Linked DNA regions of Homo sapiens: region 1 is linked to region 2. Evidence: fine-mapped expression QTL. A gene starts in region 2. The other region holds a variant in brackets. All regions are shown on one strand. Distances are between the middles of the regions. Region 1 overlaps EPS15L1 (epidermal growth factor receptor pathway substrate 15 like 1). Region 2 holds the start of EPS15L1 (epidermal growth factor receptor pathway substrate 15 like 1).

Evidence for each region.
Region 1: its variant is fine-mapped to the expression of EPS15L1 in whole blood (TOPMed, PIP 0.98).

What each region holds. Positions count from the first base shown.
Region 1 is chr19:16,349,341-16,358,531 of GRCh38, forward strand. It overlaps EPS15L1 (epidermal growth factor receptor pathway substrate 15 like 1), which reads right to left. Exons shown (of 24, transcript NM_001258374.3): 24 at 5,907-6,511. The coding sequence ends at 6,365. Among named protein-coding and RNA genes, the nearest start is that of KLF2, 29 kb to the left of the region's middle. The variant C/T (reference allele first, on the strand shown) is at 3,902.
Region 2 is chr19:16,467,658-16,476,848 of GRCh38, forward strand. It overlaps EPS15L1 (epidermal growth factor receptor pathway substrate 15 like 1), which reads right to left and starts at 4,313. Exons shown (of 24, transcript NM_001258374.3): 1 at 4,256-4,313. The coding sequence starts at 4,288. RefSeq lists enhancers at 3,491-4,402, 3,635-3,784 and silencers at 3,865-4,084, 4,145-4,544.

The DNA of each region.
Region 1 (9,191 bases), 120 kb before region 2:
GAGACCATCTTGGCCAACATGGTGAAACCCCATCTCTACTAAAATACAAAAAATTAGCCGGGCATGGTGGCAGGTGCCTGTAATCCCAGCTATTTGGGAGGCTGAGGCAGGGGAATCGCTTGAACCCAGGAGGTGGAGGTTGCAGTGAGCTGAGATCGCGCCACTGCACTCCAGCCTGGAGACAGAGCAAGGCTCCATCTCAAAAAAAAAAAAAAAAAAAAAGAGAGAGAGAGAGAGAAAGAAACCATTTGAAAAAAAACAATCAAAAGTTGCCTCTTATGTGAAAGATCTGATGGCTAGGAGGGGTCATTGTTCATTTTCTCAGACGTGACCTTGGCATCGAGTATACGTTAGCATGTCAGTCGCCACACGTCTCAGTGACGTGCGCTTCAGGGCACGTGGGCGAAATGGCATCCTGACTCCAACTTGCTCTAAAGTGCTTCTCCAGAGCAAAGGAAGACAGCCATGCGGCAAAGGTGGAAAATCTGGATGACAGTTGACGCTGGGTGGGGGTGTTTACTGTCCTTTTCTCTTCAACTATTATGTTTGGAAATTTTCATCATACATTTGTTCCAATTGGATACTCTATTCTTCAGGAAAGGGCGTGAGTGTCCTTTGCCGTGGAAGAGACTGCCAATGGGAGAGGGGATGGATTTGTGGATTTGATGTTGATTATTTACACAGCAGGGGAGTGTGTGTGTGTGTGTGTGTGTGTGTAGCAGGGAAGGAAGGAAACAGGATTTGAGACTGGCTTCTAACTTTTTAAAGGGTCTGAGGACCTCTTTAAAAATCAGATGGAGGCTGGGCACAGTGGCTCACACCTGTCATCAGCAGCACTTTGGGAGGCCGAAGCGGGAGGGTCACTTGGGGCCAGGAGTTGGAGATCAGCCTGGCCAACATAGTGAGACCCTGTTTCTATAAAAATAAAAATAAAATAAAAATTAAAAAAAATTAGCCAGGGCCGGGCACGGTGGCTCATGCCTGTAATCCCAGCACTTTGGGAGGCTGAGGTGGGCAGATCAAGAGGTCAGTAGATCGAGACCATCCTGGCTAACACGGTGAAACCCCGTCTCTACTAAAAATACAAAAAAATTTGCTGGGCGTGGTGGCGGGCGCCTGTAGTCCCAGCTACTCAGGAGGCTGAGGCAGGAGAATGGCGTGAACCCGGGAGGCGGAGCTTGCAGTGAGCCGAGATCGTGCCACTGCCCTCCAGACTGGGTGACAGAGCGAGACTCCGTCTCAAAAAAAAAAAAAAAAAAAAAAAAAAAAAAAATTAGCCGGATGTGGTCAGCTACTCAGGAGGCTGAGGCAGGAGGATCACTTGAGCCCAGGAGTTCAAGGCTGCAGTGGGCTATGATTGCGCCATGCACTCCAGCCTGGGTGAGAGAGCGAGACCCCCATCTCTTAAAAAAGGGGAAAAAAAAAGATAAAAAGTTATGAACACTGCAAACCCACATACAATAAAAAACAAACCAGGGCTGGGTGCGGTGGCTCATGCCTGTAATCCCAGCACTTTGGGAGTCTGAAGCAGGCGAATCACGAGGTCAAGAGATCGAGACCATCCTAGCCAACATGGTGAAACCTCATCTCTAATAAAAATACAAAAATTAGCCAGGCATGGCGGCGTGTGCCTGTAGTCCCAGCTACTTGGGAGGCTGAGGCAGGAGAATCACTTGAACCCAGGAGGTAGAGGTTGCAGTGAGCTGAGATCACGCCACTGCACTCCAGCCTGGTGACAAAGCAAGACTCCGATTCAAAAAAAAAAAAAAAAAAAAAAGAACAAAAACAAAAAACCAGCAAATGTGCATTCAGGGGTTCACTGCTTTCCCTAAAAACGTCCCCTCCCCTGGGTAAGAGCTCCTAATTCAATACATGGTTTTCCATTTCTAAGATATCAAGAGCCATCACCTGCCTCTTCTGGGTACGGTGAATATGCAAATAAGCAGAAGACAACAAGAAACTAGAAACCCTGAAGTTTTCTAAGAAACCCTCAATTCTTTTCTCAAATCAGCAAAACGAGCCTCCGCCCCTGGCTGGCTTCGGAGCTCTGGGCAAATGACTGCAGGGAATGAGTCTCAGTTTTCCCTCAGGAAAATGGGCTAACATCCACCCTCTTCATTTACAAGGTTGCTTTGAGTTTCCAACAAGATAATGGAAGCTGAATCGCTGTGAAAATTGTGAAGTCCCAAACCAAATGGTGCCAAAGCTGTGACTACCCTGGAGAGAGGTGACTCAGCGCCTTCTCCAAAGGGATCTATCACGGCAGAAGCACATGGCTTGGGACCTTCAGATTCACTCTGGGGTTTTCCTGCAGGAGGAAGGAAGTATTGGGAATTGCCTCCGGCCATGACCACTTTCAGGAAGCTGCTCGTTTTTGCAGAGAAGATTAGGGGCATCTCAGAGGTTACAAAGCCCACGAGGCCCCACCAGGCCCCAATCCACAAAGCAGGCCCATTCCATGGGCACCAAGAAGACGTCCCCTCCCAACACCCTCATCTCCAGGACTGCAGGGACCCCTCGAGGGTCTGTAACCTGGAAAAGGGGGATTACCAAAGGTTTGGAATCTTTACATTCGCCCAAATCCACCATAAACTTCAGTTTATGGTTTATAGATGACCCTTGAACAACACAGGTTTGAACTGGGTGGGTTCAGTCATATGTGGATTTTCTTTGTTTTGAGCCCGAGTCTCACTCTTGTTGCCCAGGCTGGAGTGCAGTGGTGCGATCTCAGCCCACTGCAACCTCCGCCTCCCGGGTTCAAGTGACTCTCCTGCCTCAGCCTCCCTAATAGCTAGGATTACAGGCATCTGCCACGACACCCAGCTAATTTTTGTATTTTTAGTAGAGACGGGGTTTTACCATGTTGGCCAGGCTGGTCTCGAACTCCTGACCTCAGGTGATCCACTCGCCTCAGCCTCCTGAAGTGCTGGAATTACAGGCATGAGCCACTGTGCCCTGCCTGTATGTGGATTTTCTTCCACCTCTGCCACCCCAAGACCAACCCTTCCTCCTCCTCCTCCTCGGGTTACTCAATGGGAAGATGATGAGGAAGAAGACCTTTATGATGATCCACTTCCACTTAATGGATGGCCAATATTTTTTCTCTTCCTTTTCCTGAGGATTTTCTTTTTTTGTTTTTGGAGATGGAGTCTCGCTCTGTTGCCCAGGCTAGACTGCAGTGGCACGATCTTGGCTCACTGCAACCTCTGCCTCCCAGGTTCAAGCGATCCTCCTTGTCTCAGCCTCCTGAGTAGCTGGGATTACAGGTGCCTGTCACCACGCCTGGCTAATTTTTTGTATTTTTAGTAGAGATGGGGTTTCACCACATTGGCCAGGCTGGTCTCGAATTCCTGGCCTCAAGTTATCCTCCCACCTCGGCCTCCCAAAGTGCTGGGATTACAGGCATGAGCCACTGCTCCTGGCCTTTTTTTTTTTTTTTTTTTTTTTTTTGAGACAGAGTCTTGCTCTGTCACCAGGTTGGAGTGCAGTGGCACGATCTCGGCTCATTGCAACTTCTGCCTCCCGGGTTCAAGCCACTCTCCTGCCTCAGCCTCCCGAGTAGCTGGGATTACAGGTGCCCACTACCATGCCCAGCTAATTTTTGTATTTTTAGTAGAGACGGGGTTTCACTGTGTTGGCCAGGATGGTCTCAATCTCCTGACCTCTTGATCCACCTGCCTTGGCCTCCCAAAGTGCTGGGATTACAGGCGTTAGCCACCACGCCCGGCCCTGTATTTTCAATCTCATGAATTACTGCCCTGAGACGAGTCTATGTAACAAAATATCTGAGGCTGAAAAACTGCTTTTTAAAAATAAATCTACCTGAGGCCAGGAGTTTGAGACTAGCCTGGCCAACATGGCAAAACCCCATCTCTACTAAAAATACAAAAAATTAGCCAGG[C/T]ATGTTGCCTAATGCCTGTAATTCCAGCTACTTGGGAGGCTGAGACAGGAGAATTGCTTGAACTTGGGAGGTGGAGGCTGCAGCGAGCTGAGATCACACCATTGTACTCCAGCTTGGGTGACAAGAGTGAAACTCTGTCCCAAAATAAAATAAAATAATAAATAAAAATAAATCTATGTCCAGTGGATCCAGGTCAACACCAGCCTTCTAAGTCATGTTGATGACATGGATCTTTGATGTGATTTGATGTCAATACACTTCATCTCTGTGGTCTTCCTCCCCCAAGTCCAGCTCCACATCTAGTCACGGGAAAAACATCAGACAAATCCCAGTGGAGGGACATTCTACAAAGCACCTGACCAGTTCTCCTTGTAACTGTCATCAAAAACACACAACGTTTGAGAAACTCACACAGCCCAGAGAATTCTTTTTTTTTTCCTTGAGACAAGAGTCTCACTCTGTCGCCCAGGCTGGAGTGCAGCGGTGTGATCTCGGCTCACTGCAACCTCTGCCCCCCGGGTTCCAGCGATTCTCCTGCCTCAGCCTCCTGAGTAGCTGGGATTACAAGCGCCTGCCACTGCGCCCGGCTAATTTTTCTATTTTTAGTAGAGACGGGGTTCCACCCAGCCCAGAGAATTCTAACGAGATGTAAGGTCTGAATGTCATGGGGGATCCTGGGACAGAAAAAGGACATTAGGGGGAAAAACGAATTTTTTTTTTTTGACAGGGTCTTACTCTGTGGCCCAGACTGGAGTGCAGAGGTGCGATCTTGGCCCACCACAACCTCCACCTCCCAGGTTCAAGCGATTCTCCTGCGTCAGTCTCCCGAGTAGCTGGGATTACAGGCATGCTCCACTACCACCCGGCTATTTTTTGTGTATTTTTAGTAGAGACGGGGTTTCACCATGTTGGCCAGGCTGGTCTTGAACTCCTGACCTCAAATGATCCACCTGCCTCGGCCTCCCAAATGGCTGGGATTACAGGTGTGAGCCACCGTGCCCTACCTGCATTTTTTTTTTTAGACGGTGTCTTTCTTGTCGCCTGGGCCAGAGTGCAATGGCATGATATTGGCTCACTGCAACTCCACCTCCTGAGTTTCAAGTGATTCTCCTGCCTCAGCCTCTCGAGTAGCTGGGATTACAAGTGCGCACCACCACGCGCGGCTAATTTTTGTGTTGTTTTTTTTTAGTAGAGACAGGGTTTCACTATGTTGGCCAGGCTGGTCCCCAACTCCTGACCTCAAGTGATCCCCCCCACCTCGGCCTCCCAAAGTGCTGGAATTACAGGCATGAGCCACCGCACTCAGCCAAAAAAACAGAGCAATTCTGAATAAAGTAAGGACTCTAGTTAATAATAATGAATCCGTATTGGTTCATTAATTGGGATGTAAGTAATGTGTAATGTAAGATGTTAAAAATAAGGTAAACTCTCTAAGGGGCTTATGGGAACCCTTCGTATTTTCTTTGCGATCTTTCTGCAAATTTAAAACTGGCCAGGCACAGTGGCACATGTCTGTAATCCCAGCCCTTTGGGAGGCTGAAGTGGGAGGATCACTTGAGCCCGGGGAAGTGGAGGTTGCAGTGAGCTGAGATCACACCACTGCACTCCACCCTGGGTGACAGAGCTCAGACCCTGTTTCAAAAAAAAATTTTTTTTAAGGATAAATTGTCTAAGGGGCTTATGGGAACTCTTTGTATCTTTGTGATTTTTCTGCAGGTTTAAAACTGTCCTAAAAAATAAAGTTGGTTAAAACATAAAAATGGGCAGGGCTTGGTGGCTCACGCCTGTAATCCCAGCACTTTGGGATGCTGAGACAGGAGAATTGTGTGAGTCAAGGAGTTTGAGACCAGCCTGGGCAACATGGCAAGATCTCATCTCTTAAAAAAAAATTTTTTTTAAAAGTAAAAACTTAAGATTTAAAGAGCAATGTTCCACCTGGTTGATCTGCTTCCTGATACCCATGCAGGGAAAACAATGTTTACAGAGATTAAAGAAGCTTCTCTTGTTTTGTATTAAAATATTTTATATTAATCATTCAAACTTCATTTTATACAACGAGTGCATACACCACTGGGGGAGTGTCTGACTGATGCGTGGGAGGGCGGGTGGGGATGTCTGCAGCTATGAGTAGGGAGGAGGCGGGGAAGCCCTGGGTGCTTCCTCTCCTCGACTGACCGCTGTGTGTTCGTCCCCAGAGGAAGAGCGGGAGGCAGTCAGCCCCGGGGGGGATGGCACAGTGGAGAGACGGACCTGCAGAAGTGGTGGCCAAGGCCTCTGTAAGGGCTTCCCCAGGAGATGTGACCTTTCCAGGTCTTGCAGCCGAGTCTGCTCACCCTGAACAAGCCCCCGAGTCCCGGTCCTTGGAGTACGGTGGCGACGGTGTGTGTGTGTATATATAGACATCTGCACTGCCCCCTCTCTGGAACCCGCCCGTGCCCTGTCCCGCCTACACACGGCCCTCGCCTAGGCGGCAGGCATGTCAGCCTTGCTGAGCGCGATGGCCAGTTCCAGGTCCTCCTGCTCCTGCCGCCGCAGCCGCGCCAGCCTCTCCTGTTCCGCCTTCTCGCTCTCCCGCTTGGCCCACGCCAGCTGCTGCTCCTCATTGCCAAACTGCAAAGGAAAAACGGAGAGTGGGTGATGTGGCCCTGGGGCTGGGACCTGCAAGCTGGAGGGAGGCAGGGAATGCGTGGGAGGGGTCAGGGTCCTGCCCACCGCCCAGCGGAGGGTCCGATGTGCAGGGGATAAGCATGTCTTGGCTGGGCCCAGTGGGCGTGCGAGCCTGTCTCAGGCCCCCCATCTGGAAAGCAGAGTGGACGGGATGCATGTGATTGAGTGTGACCTTAACCATGACCTCTGGGCCTCAAAGAAACCAGCCACCCCGCCCCACGCAGAGAAGTGAGGATGGGCCCTTGACGCTGGTGGCCAAGAGGTGCAAAGATGGGGAACTTCCAGCGTGCATGGCTCTAAAGCCCCACGGCGCAGACAATTCTGCACTCTGGGAATGTGGTATTTCTACCTCCAGCCATGCTCCAGAGAGCTCTGAGACCCTCTGAGGGTCATTTTCTTTTTCTTTTTCTTTTTTTTTTTTTGAGATGGAGTCTCGCTCTGTCGCCAGGCTGGAGTGCAATGGCGCGATCTCGGCTCATTGCAACATTCACCTCCCAGGTTCAAGGGATTCTCTTGCCTCAGCCCCCTGAGTAGCTGGGATTACAGGCATGCGCTACCATGCCCAGCTAATTTTTGTATGTTTCGTAGAGACGGGGTTTCACCATGTTGGTCAGGCTGGTCTTGAACTCCTGACCTTGTGATCCACCCGCCTCAGCCTCCCAAAGTGCTGGGATTACAGGCGTGAGCCACCGCACCCGGCTCTGAGGGTCAATTTCTCCCAGAACACTGACAAAAGGTGTGGCACTTACACTGCCATTTAGTCAAGTTTTTATCCGTGGGGTGTTTTTCTAAAATGTTCAGTTAAAATAAAAACTTAAAAAAGGGAGAAAACCATCTTGATGCTGAGATAGGTGATTTCAAACAACTCAAAGTACTTTAGTCATGAAAAGAAAAGCCACATCCCACAAGCTCCTCCCCCAGGGTGGGTCCCAATGTCCCAGACTTCCCTGAGAGGTCACTGGCATCATCGGCCCCCTCAGGAAAGCTGCTGCTGCTTAGGGATTCAAAGGATTCCCTTATTAATGTCTCTCTGCGATGCACTGCCTCTGACCAGCTCTCTGCTCAACACTGGAGTAACACCAAAGATAACATGCGCAGTGGCTCTTCCCCAGGCACCCTTGGGAGCAGAAATATACAAACAATCCCAGAACGATCCAGGACCCAAGGACCCAGGCTCTCGAGGAGGGCCCTGCAGACTAACCCAGGAAGGTGGGGGAAAGAAGCACACAGGAACACTCACGGCCTCTCCACCACACGCAGCACTAGGTCTGCGTGACAACCTGGGGGTGGGCCCGCTGTCATCTCATCCCTCTGACAGCTGGGGACACTGAGGCCAGGGAAGGGGTGGCTCACACTCTAGACTTTTTCCCCCCCAGGCCTGTGGGGAGCAGGATACTAGGTGAAACTGACAGGGAGGATGCGTCCCTGCGAGGTTCTGGGTGTGAGGCTCAGTGCCCGACCTTGGGGTAGCCAGGATGAAGCGTGGGGTGGGATAAGCCAGACTGAGGAGGGGCTCGTGGGCCCCAGGAAGGAGCTGGGATTTCCCCGTGGAGGCTCCTTGGGCGAGCGAGTTGGGTGATCAGATTGGCAGCGTCTGGATATTTCACGGCTTGATGGTGGCATGAGCGGGAAGCAGGAGAGAGGAGGGCCAGATGGCAGGGCTGGGGGGACTGGGCAAGGTGCAGGAGCAGATAAATGCAAGGAACCTGGTTGGGAGGCAGATGTGGCAGTGAGGGGGATGCGGGGCCCTGGAGGCCTCCCTCTAGCTGGCCTCAGGACCCAGATGGGGGACAGGCGGAGTGTCAGTATCAAGAAAAGATGTCCCTGGGAGGAAGGGCTGAGTCTTGACTTCTTAAAGAGGCACTGCCCAGCTAAACACTTGGGGGTCTGATGAGTCTCCAGGTCGGACTCCCTCCCCGCCATTGTGTCACTGCCAGGGGCACAGATAAGCATCCCCCCCGCCCCAGTTTGGGGAATTTTCCAACACCTCATGGGGAGAAAAACAAGGAAAAACCAACAAGTGCAGGTGGAAATTATTCCATGGTGCTGCTGACAACAGTGGGAGGGAGACAGTGCAGCTGACGGGGACCTCACCCTCCACCAGCCTTGAGGACAGGGTGGGTGGGAGCTGACAGTAATGTTCGCCTGGATCCAAATCAAAGCCTGGAACGACCAAGTAACCGGCCTGCTGGGTCTGAACCACAGCCCTCTGGCCGCCTTTGGCCCCACTGAGCCCCCGTGTCACAGTGTCACTGAAGCGCCTTCCCTTGACGGGTCTGTGTTTCCAAATGAAAGGTGTCAGCAGGAAAGTTCCTGGTGCCTTCAGAGTCGACCGGTTCAAGGCCAGCTCACGAATCCACTGTGGAGACTTGCATTGGTGAGGTCTGTATGCACTTAGGAGGCACGCTGGGCTGTGAGGCCTGGGAGAGCTCTCCTGAAAGGGGACTCCGCAGCTCCCTCTGTGTCTGCTGTCTTAGCCCTGGACGGGGCCACCTTCTAGTTCTCGTATCTGGGTGGGTCACACGGGCCAGAATCTGGATGTCTGTGGCCGATGCAAAACCAATAGTGGCTGGGAAACACACTGGCTCTGATTTCTGCTTCCCTCTGGCATTACCATGGAACC
Region 2 (9,191 bases):
GCATTCTACTAAGATAGACTAGCACTTATTTCAGAGGAAGAAAAGAAACAAGGGACAAGAGGACAAGTAAGTGTCCGAGCCACTCAGCATTCATTCCAGACACACTGGCCGGGTGCTGCTCTGGGAGAGGTGCCCAGCAGGCCATCTGGAACAGCAGGGCTCTGCGGCAGGAGGACGCAGGTGTGACCTCAGCTCTGCGCCCACCAACTATGAGACTTCAGCAAGTTACTCTATTTCTGTGGGTCTTGGTTTCCTCACTTGTAAAAGGGGAATAAAAGCCTCCTAGAATGGAGGCACCTACTGAAATACAGCAAAAGCTCCTGGATGAAGAACACATAACAAGGGGGAAAGGAGGAAGGTGTAGCTCTTTGGGCCCAGGGCAGTCTCTCCTCATCACTGAGCCCAGTTACCACGCGCTTCCTAGGTACAGCGGTCACAAAAGGGACCCACGGAAGGTACAAGGGAGAGAACTCTCATTCGGGTGGGGCTAAGGGAGGACAACACAGGGGAGGCCTCAAAGACCGTCCTTCAGGGCAGGCAGCATACGGCAGGAGCTCACAGTGATGTTCTAGCAACCGGAGCAACACAGCTAAGGATGCTGAGGCTAGAAAGTGTTGCCAAGAGCCAGAAGTGCAGGAAAGGGACCCAGCAAGGTTAGGTGGAGTCGATTCAGGGCTTACTAAGGTCATCAAAGCTGACTTTTTTTGAGACTGAGTCTCACCCTGTTGCCCAGGCTGGGGTGCAGTGGCGCGATCTCAGCTCACTGCAACCTCCGCCGCCTGGTTTCAAGCGATTCTTGTGCCTCAGCCTCCCAAGTTGCTGGGATTATAGGCGTTTGCCACTATGCCTGGCTAACTTTTGTATTTTTAGTACAGACAGGGTTTTGCTATGTTGGCCAGGCTGGTCTCGAGCTCCTGGCCTCAAGCAATCCATCCACCTCAGCCTCCTAAAGTGCTGGGATTATAGGCATGAGCCACAGCGCCCAGCCATAAACTGAGTTCTTTTGGAGGAAGGGGAATGGGAGCTGTGAAAGGTTTTTGGAACAGGGGAATATGTTTTAGAAGATGAATCCTAGCCAGATGCAGTGGCTGACACCGTAATTCCAATACTTTAGGAGGCTGAGATAGAAGGATTGCTTGAGGCTAGGGGTTTAAGACCTGCCTAGGCAGCATAGCAAGACTTCATCTCTTCAAAAAAAAAATTGTTTAATTAGCTGGGTATGATTGGTGCTGCGCTCCTGTAGTCCCAGCTACTTGAGAGGCCAAGGTGGGAGAATTGCTTGAGCCCAGGAGTTTGAGGTTGCAGTGAGCTATGATCCTACCACTGCACTCCAGCCTGGGGGACAGAGCGAGACCCTGTCTCAAAAATCAAAAAGATGACTTCCACAGTGGCGTGGGATTAAGTGGGAGGGAGTGGGCAAGTAGGAAGTAGAATGGCCCAGACCACTTTGGGGCATGGCAAGGAAATGGCCCATTCCAGAGTCCAGCAGGCTGGCAGAGGTGCAGGAGAGAGACACCTTCTGGACTCTAGAAGGCAGGTTTGAAGTCCTCTGCACAGAAGCTCCAGGGGAGGGAGCGCACAGAGAGATAAGATGCAGGTAGGGAGGCTGAAATTAGGGGACAAGAAGGAGAGACTGAAAGGAGAGAGGATGAAGAGTGAAGACCGACGGGCTCCAGTGTTGCGGAGTTCGAGGAGGATCGGCTGCAGCCACAGGGCACCGGGGTTAAGGACGGAGGGGCCACCGGTAACCTCGGGGAGTACAAGGAGGAAAGAGATCTGGATGCATTTCCACGGAAGGCTTTTTGGAAAGCAGAAGAGAGCTGAGCAGGGGGACAGGGAGACACACAAATCACTGAGATGCTGTTGGGAAAAAAAAATCACTCCTAAAGAGGCAGAGGTGCAGACCTTTCGAATTTACGTTGATATTCAGGGTCAGAAAAGAGTATATAAGGAAGGAGATTCTGAGATGATGTCATGGAGTACAGAACAGACTGAAAAAGATGCTGATGGGAAAAGTGCAGACAGGAGTGGGGGTGGAGAAAACACACCCCTCCTCCCCTAGGCTAGCCCGCTGGGTTATCCACTTTGCTCACCTTCACCTGGCCATCTGCTTGCCAAGTGTGCTCTGTCACCTAAATCCAACCAGATCACAGCCACCTGCTGCAGGGTGCTTCCCTTTTGCCCCCAACCAAAAATTTTGGAATTATACCCTTGGTTCCCCCAGAGTTATCTGTGAACCCAAGTGATCTCCTGAGCTAGACAGTAAGGGCCTGGGAGGGCCATGCCTCACACCTGGGCCAACAGTAACCCATGGTGTAGATTTTCACTCGAGAGCAAGTGTAAAGAAGTGCTGACATTTCCAAACGAAGAAAACCAGGCCACGCCTTCATTCAACAAATGTATAGGGAAAGGAACAGGAAGAGGCTAAGAAGTCAGTGACCTGGCCAGGCGCAGTGGCTAACGCCTGTAATCCCAGCACTTTGGGAGGCCAAGGCGGGTGGATCACTCGAGTTCAGGAGTTTGACACGAGCCTCGCCAAAATGGTGAAACCCCGTCTCCACTAAAAAAAAAATACAAAAATTAGCCGGGTGTGGTAGCACGTGCCTGTAGTCCCAGCTACTCAGGAGGCTGAGGCAGGAGAATCACTTGAACTCGGGAGGCGGAGGTTACAGTGAGCTGAGATCATGCCACTGCACTCCACCCTGGGTGACAGAGCAATACTCCATCTCAAAAAAAAAAAAATTGGACAGGAAGTTTTAGAAAGATCCACGCCTCCCAAACTGGGAGTGCTTAGTGCTTTCTCATGAAATGATCTTAGGTGATTTTCCCCCGACTCCCGCCTTCCCCGCCCCCCACCCCCTGACTACATACTCTAAACTGTAGCACTTAGCTATTAACACCTATTATCGGTAGGACACTTAACAGTTTACAGAGCACTTTCATGTCAGTAACAAGAACTTGCTAATTAATAATCACCGGGTTTTAGCACTGTTAACTTAGTGACAGTGTTGCAAATTGGCTAGCTGTGCACTTCTCTCTCCTTGGATCAGCTAACCAGTCATGCAAGCATGCAACCGGCCTATCAACTCTCTTTGGGTTTGGAATTCTTAATTGCTGCGGTCTCTACTCCCAAACGTCCAAATCTGGCAGAGATTAAATGATGACAGTAATTATAGGATCACTGAGTGCCTCTCATATGCTAGGCACTGTTCTAAGCGCTTTTTCACGTGCTTAATTTTCACATAATCCCAACACATTTTTATATCTCCATTTTCCAAAGGAAGCAACTGATGGGTGGAATGGCTAAGAGCTTCAACCAAAGGCACAGAGAAATCGGGGCTGGAGCCAAGATTTGAACACATGATCTGACCCTGTGTCCTCACTCTTAATCACCATGCTGTGCTAGATCATTCTAGCAAAATGCTTATATGGTGCTTTGCACAACACAGGTATTCAGCAAATAAAGGCAGCTGTGATTAGCATAACACAGGTAGTTTCTAGTTCCCACGAGTGTCACCTCCAGGAAAGCAGCGACCTTGTCTGTCTGGAAGAATGCAGCGCTCCCAGCACCTGACCCAACGCACATTTGAGGGATGGATAGAAAATGAATGAATGAAAGTCTCTCCCAAATAACAGAGCTGCCTACGCATGGCTCTTTTTCGCATGTCTGTGTCGCGCTATCGATACTGCCCCTTCATAAGCGCATCAGGCGAATTTGAGGACACAGAGAGGCGCCCGGAGACGTACGATCTGCGCCCGGTGCAGGGGTGGCGGAAGCAGCTTCCAAGGAGGCAGGGGATCAGTCTGAGATCGCACTGCTGCTGACGGGTCCGGGCTCCGGCGGGACCCTGCCCGCCCGGGCGCCGGGACCGGAGGGAGACAAAGACTCGCTGGGCCGCCGCGCCGACAGAAACGCTCGCACCCCTCGCCCACCCCTCCGGGATGCAGCCCAGCGCCTCCGCGGGTCCCCGGCCTGGGAGCTTCAGCGGCGGCAGGGTCCGGGCCCTGGGCGGAGAGGACACGCGCTGCGCACCTCCTCGCCTCGCCGGTGCCCGCGAGGGTCGCTCGGGCACGGGAGGCCGCGGGTCCCGGCCTGTCACCTTCAGGGCCGCCTGCCCACCCGCCCGCCGCAAGCCCTTCAGCACGCGCCGCCCCCGCCGCCGCCTGGCTGAGTCTCCCAGCGCCTCAGCCTCGCCGCACCGCTCGCCTCGCGCCCCGCACCCCGGCGCCGCCCCCAGGCCCGCCCGGCCCGTACCTGCTGGGAGAGGGGGATGAGCGGCGCCGCCATCTTCCCGCGGACTCGGGCTCCGAGCGCCGGGGGAACGGGGGCGGGGCTGCAGCCACGCGTGCGCACTGGGACGACGGGAGGGCGGTGCGCAGGCCGCCTGTCCCGGGAGAGGGCGGGGCCGTAGACAGGGCCACGCATGTGCAGTCAGGCCGGGAGGGGCGGGGGCAGGGGCGGGGCCGCCCACACGCAGCCTGGAGGGGCTGGGCCTGAGGCATCTGCGTCTTCCGTGCTCTCTTGCCCGTTCCCCTACTCCTCCTTCCAACGTTGTTCGGACTCTCATGCCGCTGGCCGCTGTCCGAGTCGACCATGCTGTGTCATCCCTCCAGCCCATGCCGAGGCCTGGTTCTCTGTTAGGGATGCCGTCCCCCTGCCAGTGCGCCTGGGGAGGCGGTCGCCCACCCCGCGGAGGGTCGGGACCCTCACCCTGCCCCGCAAAGCGCCCTGTTCCTAGGATCGCAGTGTGTGTGTGTGTGTGTGTGTGTGTGTGTGCGCGCTAATTTGGGGGACCCGCACCCTGCCCCCCTCACCCTGCCCCGCAAGGCGTCCTCCTGGCTGTGGTGGCGGGCACCTGAAATCCAAGCTACTCAGGAGACTGAGGCAGGAGAATTGCTTGAGCCCAGGAAGCAGAGGTTTCAGTGAGCCAAGATCACACCATTGCAATCCAGCCTGGGCAACAGAAGCGAAACTCTGTCTCAAAAATAAATAAATAAATAAGACAAGAACCCACTTGTTGCCAGGTACAGTGGCTTACACCTGTAATCCCAGCACTTTGGGAGGCCGAGGTGGGAGGGTCATGAGGTCAGGAGTTGGAGACCAGCCTGGCCAGTATGGTGAAACATCAATATGGTGAAACCCCATCTCTACTAAAAAAAATACAAAAATTAGCAGGTGTGGTGGTGCATGCCTGTAGTCCCAGCTACTCAGGAGGCTGAGGCCAGAGAATCACTTGAACCCGGGAGGTGGAGGTTGCGGTGAGCCAAGATTGCACCACTGCACTCCAGCCTGGGTGACAGAGTGAGACTCTGTCTCAAAACAAAGTCAAAAACAAAAAGAACCCACTTGTAACTGTTGCTAATCAAAGCATACATTCAGGGCAACTTGAATCTGTGTCTCCTGGACTGCGGTCCTCAACCTTGGCCCAAACTCTCTACTTATATTAACTTTGCCTCAGCTTCTTTTGTTACATCAATAGAGTAATGAAGGTTTTTAACAGTCTTGAGTGCTTTATCAGTACGTATTCCATAAGGAAAAGAGAAGTCCTTCTAGGTACTTCAAACAGAGGATATTGAATACAGGGGATTGAGCCAGGCTCTGTGGCTCACACTTGTAATCCCAGCAATCCAGTTGAGACAGGTAGATTGATACCAGCCTGGCCAACATGGAGAAACCCCATCTTTACTAAAAATACAAAAATTAACCCAGTGCAGTGGCAGGTGCCTGTAATCCCAGCTACTCAGGAGGCTGAGGCAGGAGAATTGCTTGAACCTGGGAGGGGAAGGTTGCAATAAGCTGAGAACTCACCATTGCACTCCAACCTAGGTGACAGAGCGAGACTCTGTCTAAAAAATAAATAAATAAAAATAAATGAATACATAAACGACTACAGGGGACTGAGTATAAAAGTGTTGGAAGTACTGGAAGAACAAAAGAGGAAGGTAAGTTTACCTAAAGATTCATAACTATATGAGGCTGCTAGCCTCTCTAGAGCTGAAAGATTAAAGCAGGGGAGGTGGCTGGGCATAGTGGCTCACGCCTGTAATCCCAGCACTTTGGGAGGCCGAGGTGGATGGATCACCTGAGGTCAGAAGTTTGAGACCAGCCTGGCCAACATGATGAAATCCCGTGTCTACTAAAAATACAAAAATTAGCCGGTTGTGGTGGTGGGCACCTGTAATCCCAGCTACTCGGGAGGCTGAGGCAGGAGAATCACTTGAACCTGGGAGGCGGAGGTTGCAGTGAGCTGAGATCACGCCACTGCACTCCAGTTTGGGCAACAAGAGCGAAACTCCGTCTCAAAATAAATAAATAAATAAAGCACAGGAGGACCCATAACCCACAATCACTGTGCCTACAGAAGGATCCCAGATGTGTTCACCCTTGCTAGCCACAGTTGCCTCCACCATGATTGCGAAAGTCACAGTTGTTGTTGTCACCACCACCTAAGCCACTGGCAGAAGTCTGAAAAAATGGTTTCTCCCCTCTTTCTGCCTCCCAACTTTGTTCTAATAAAGCATGACAGGAACGTTGCCAATTGGCAACGGCGTCCAGGAAATGTAGCATGCAGGCTTTAAGTGCCAGTATCAGAGTCTAGAATGGTGGTGGCCATAGAAACTCTCCAGCATCATCTTGTAAAAATAATCCAAACTTGGCTGGGCGCGGTGGCCCACACCTGTAATTCCAGCCCTTTGGAGGGCCGAGGCAGGCAGTTCACGAGGTCAGGAATTCGAGACCAGCCTGGCCAACACAGTGAAACCCCATCTCTACTAAAAATACAAGAATTAGCCAGGCGTGGTGGCGGGTGCCTGTAATCCCAGCTACTCGGGAGGCTGAGGCAGGAGAATTGCTTGAACCTGGGATGGGGAGGTTGCAGTGAGCCAAGATCGCACCATTGCACTCCAGCCTGGGCAACAAGAGCAAAACTCCGTCTCAGAAGAAAAAAAAGAAAAAAAAAAAGGCCGGGCATGGTGGCTCACGCCTGAAATCCCAACACTTTGGAAGGCCGAGGCAGGCAGATCATGAGGTCAGGAGATCGAGACCATCCTGGCCAACATGGTGAAACCCCATCTCTACTAAAAATACGAAAATTTAGCCGGGCATGGTGGGGGGTGCCTGTAGTCCCAGCTACTTGTGAGGCTGAGGCAGGAGAATGGCATGAACTCAGGAGGCGGGTCTTGCAGTGAGCCGAGATCGCGCCACTGCACTCCAGCCTGGGCAACACAGAAACTTCGTCTCAAAAAAAAAAAAAAAAATCCAAACTTAATCATACACTTTTGAACCCTAAGAATTATGTTGAGCCTTGAAGAAAACGGGACTGTGTGATCTGAGCCAGACAGCATGTAACTACAACTTCTGCTTATAGATTATAGATTAACTCTCCTGTTCTTGCTCTGTAGATTCATTTCAAGACTAAATGGCATCAGCGTTAAGATCGCCCTTCTTCATTGCTGACCTTTCCTCTATTATCTTGCACCTAAATCAGACCAGATAGTGCAAAAGGTCCTGTGACTGTTATGTCCTCTATGTGAATGTTAAATATACCCTTCCCAAAAAGACCACTGCCTTGACTAATCAGATTACTGTTAACTATGTACTTGCCTTGTGTGAAATATGTAGAAACGCTGTCAAGCTTCCCAAACCTTACCTATATAAATGACCCCCAAACTTCCTCAGTTTGGAATGCTGATTTCCATTCTTTGGAATCTGTGTTCCAGGGTGGCCGTCCTCAAACTTTTGTGCTAAACTAAACTCTATATTTAACCATATTTCCTGAATTTATTTATTTAGGGTTGATGTTTTGATGATCCAGATGGGATCTGAAGTGGAGTTCCAGTGATCCCTGCCACTTCTCACAATCAGACCCTTTGTACTGTTACCGCAAAGGGGTCTTGATCCAGACCCCGAGAGGGTTCTTGGATCTCACCCAAGAAAGAATTAGTGCGAGTCCATACAGTAAAGTGAAAGCAAGTTTATTAGGAAAGTAAAGGAATAAAGGAATGGCTACTTCATAGAGCAGCCCCAAGGGCTGCTGGTTGCTTTTTTTTTTTGGGAGAAGTTTCACTGTTGTTGCCAGGGCTGGAGTGCAATGACGGGATCTCAGCTCACCACAACCTCCACCTCCTGGGTTCAAGTGGTTCTCCTGCCTCAGCCTCCTGAATAGCTGGGATTAGAGACATGCACCACCACGCCCAGCTAATTTTGTATTTTTAGTAGATGTGGGGTTTCTCCATGTTGGTTAGGCTGGTCTTGAACTCCCAACCTCAAGTGATCCGCCTGCCTCGGCCTCTCAAAGTGCTGGAATTACAGGCTTGAGCCACTGTGCCTGGCCAGGTTGCTCATTTTTATGGTTATTTCTTGATGATATGCTAGACAAGGGGTGGATTATTCATGCCTTCCCTTTTTACTTATTTATGTATTTATTTATTTATTTTTTGAGACGGAGTCTCGCTCTGTCACCCAGGCTGGAGTGCAGTGGCGCGATCTCGGCTCACTGCAAGCTCCGCCTCCCGGGTTCACGCCATTCTCCTGCCTCAGCCTCCCGAGTAGTTGAGACTACAGGCACCCACCACCACGCCCGGCTAATTTTTTTGTATTTTTAGTAGAGACAGGGTTTCACTGTGTTAGCCAGGATGGTCTCGATCTCCTGACCTCGTGATCCACCCATCTCAGCCTTCCAAAGTGCTGGGATTACAGGCGTGAGCCACCGCGCCCGGCCCCCTTTTCAGGCTGCCATATACAGTAACTTCCTGATGTTGCCATGACCTTTGTAAACTGCCATGGCGCTGGTGGGAGTGTAGCAGTGAGGACCACCAGAGGTCACTCCCATCACTATCTTGGTTTTGGTGGGTTTTAGCCGGCTTCTTTACTGCAACCTGTTTTATCAGCAAGGTCTTTAGTGCTGACCTCCTATCTCATCATGTGGCTAAGAATGCCTTAACCGCCTGGGAATGCAGCCCAGTAGGTCTCAGCCTTATTTTACTAAGCCCCTATTCAAGATGGAGTTGCTCTGGCAGCTACCTGATTTATGAATTGTTCTTTGCTCAGTTACACTCCATGAAATTTAATATGTCCAGAGTTTTTCCTCTAACAAAGTTTAAAGTGAAGTTAACTAGAATGAAATAAGATTAAAAAGTCATTTCTTGGTCCCACTAGCCACATTTCAAGAGCTCAATAGCAACACGTGACC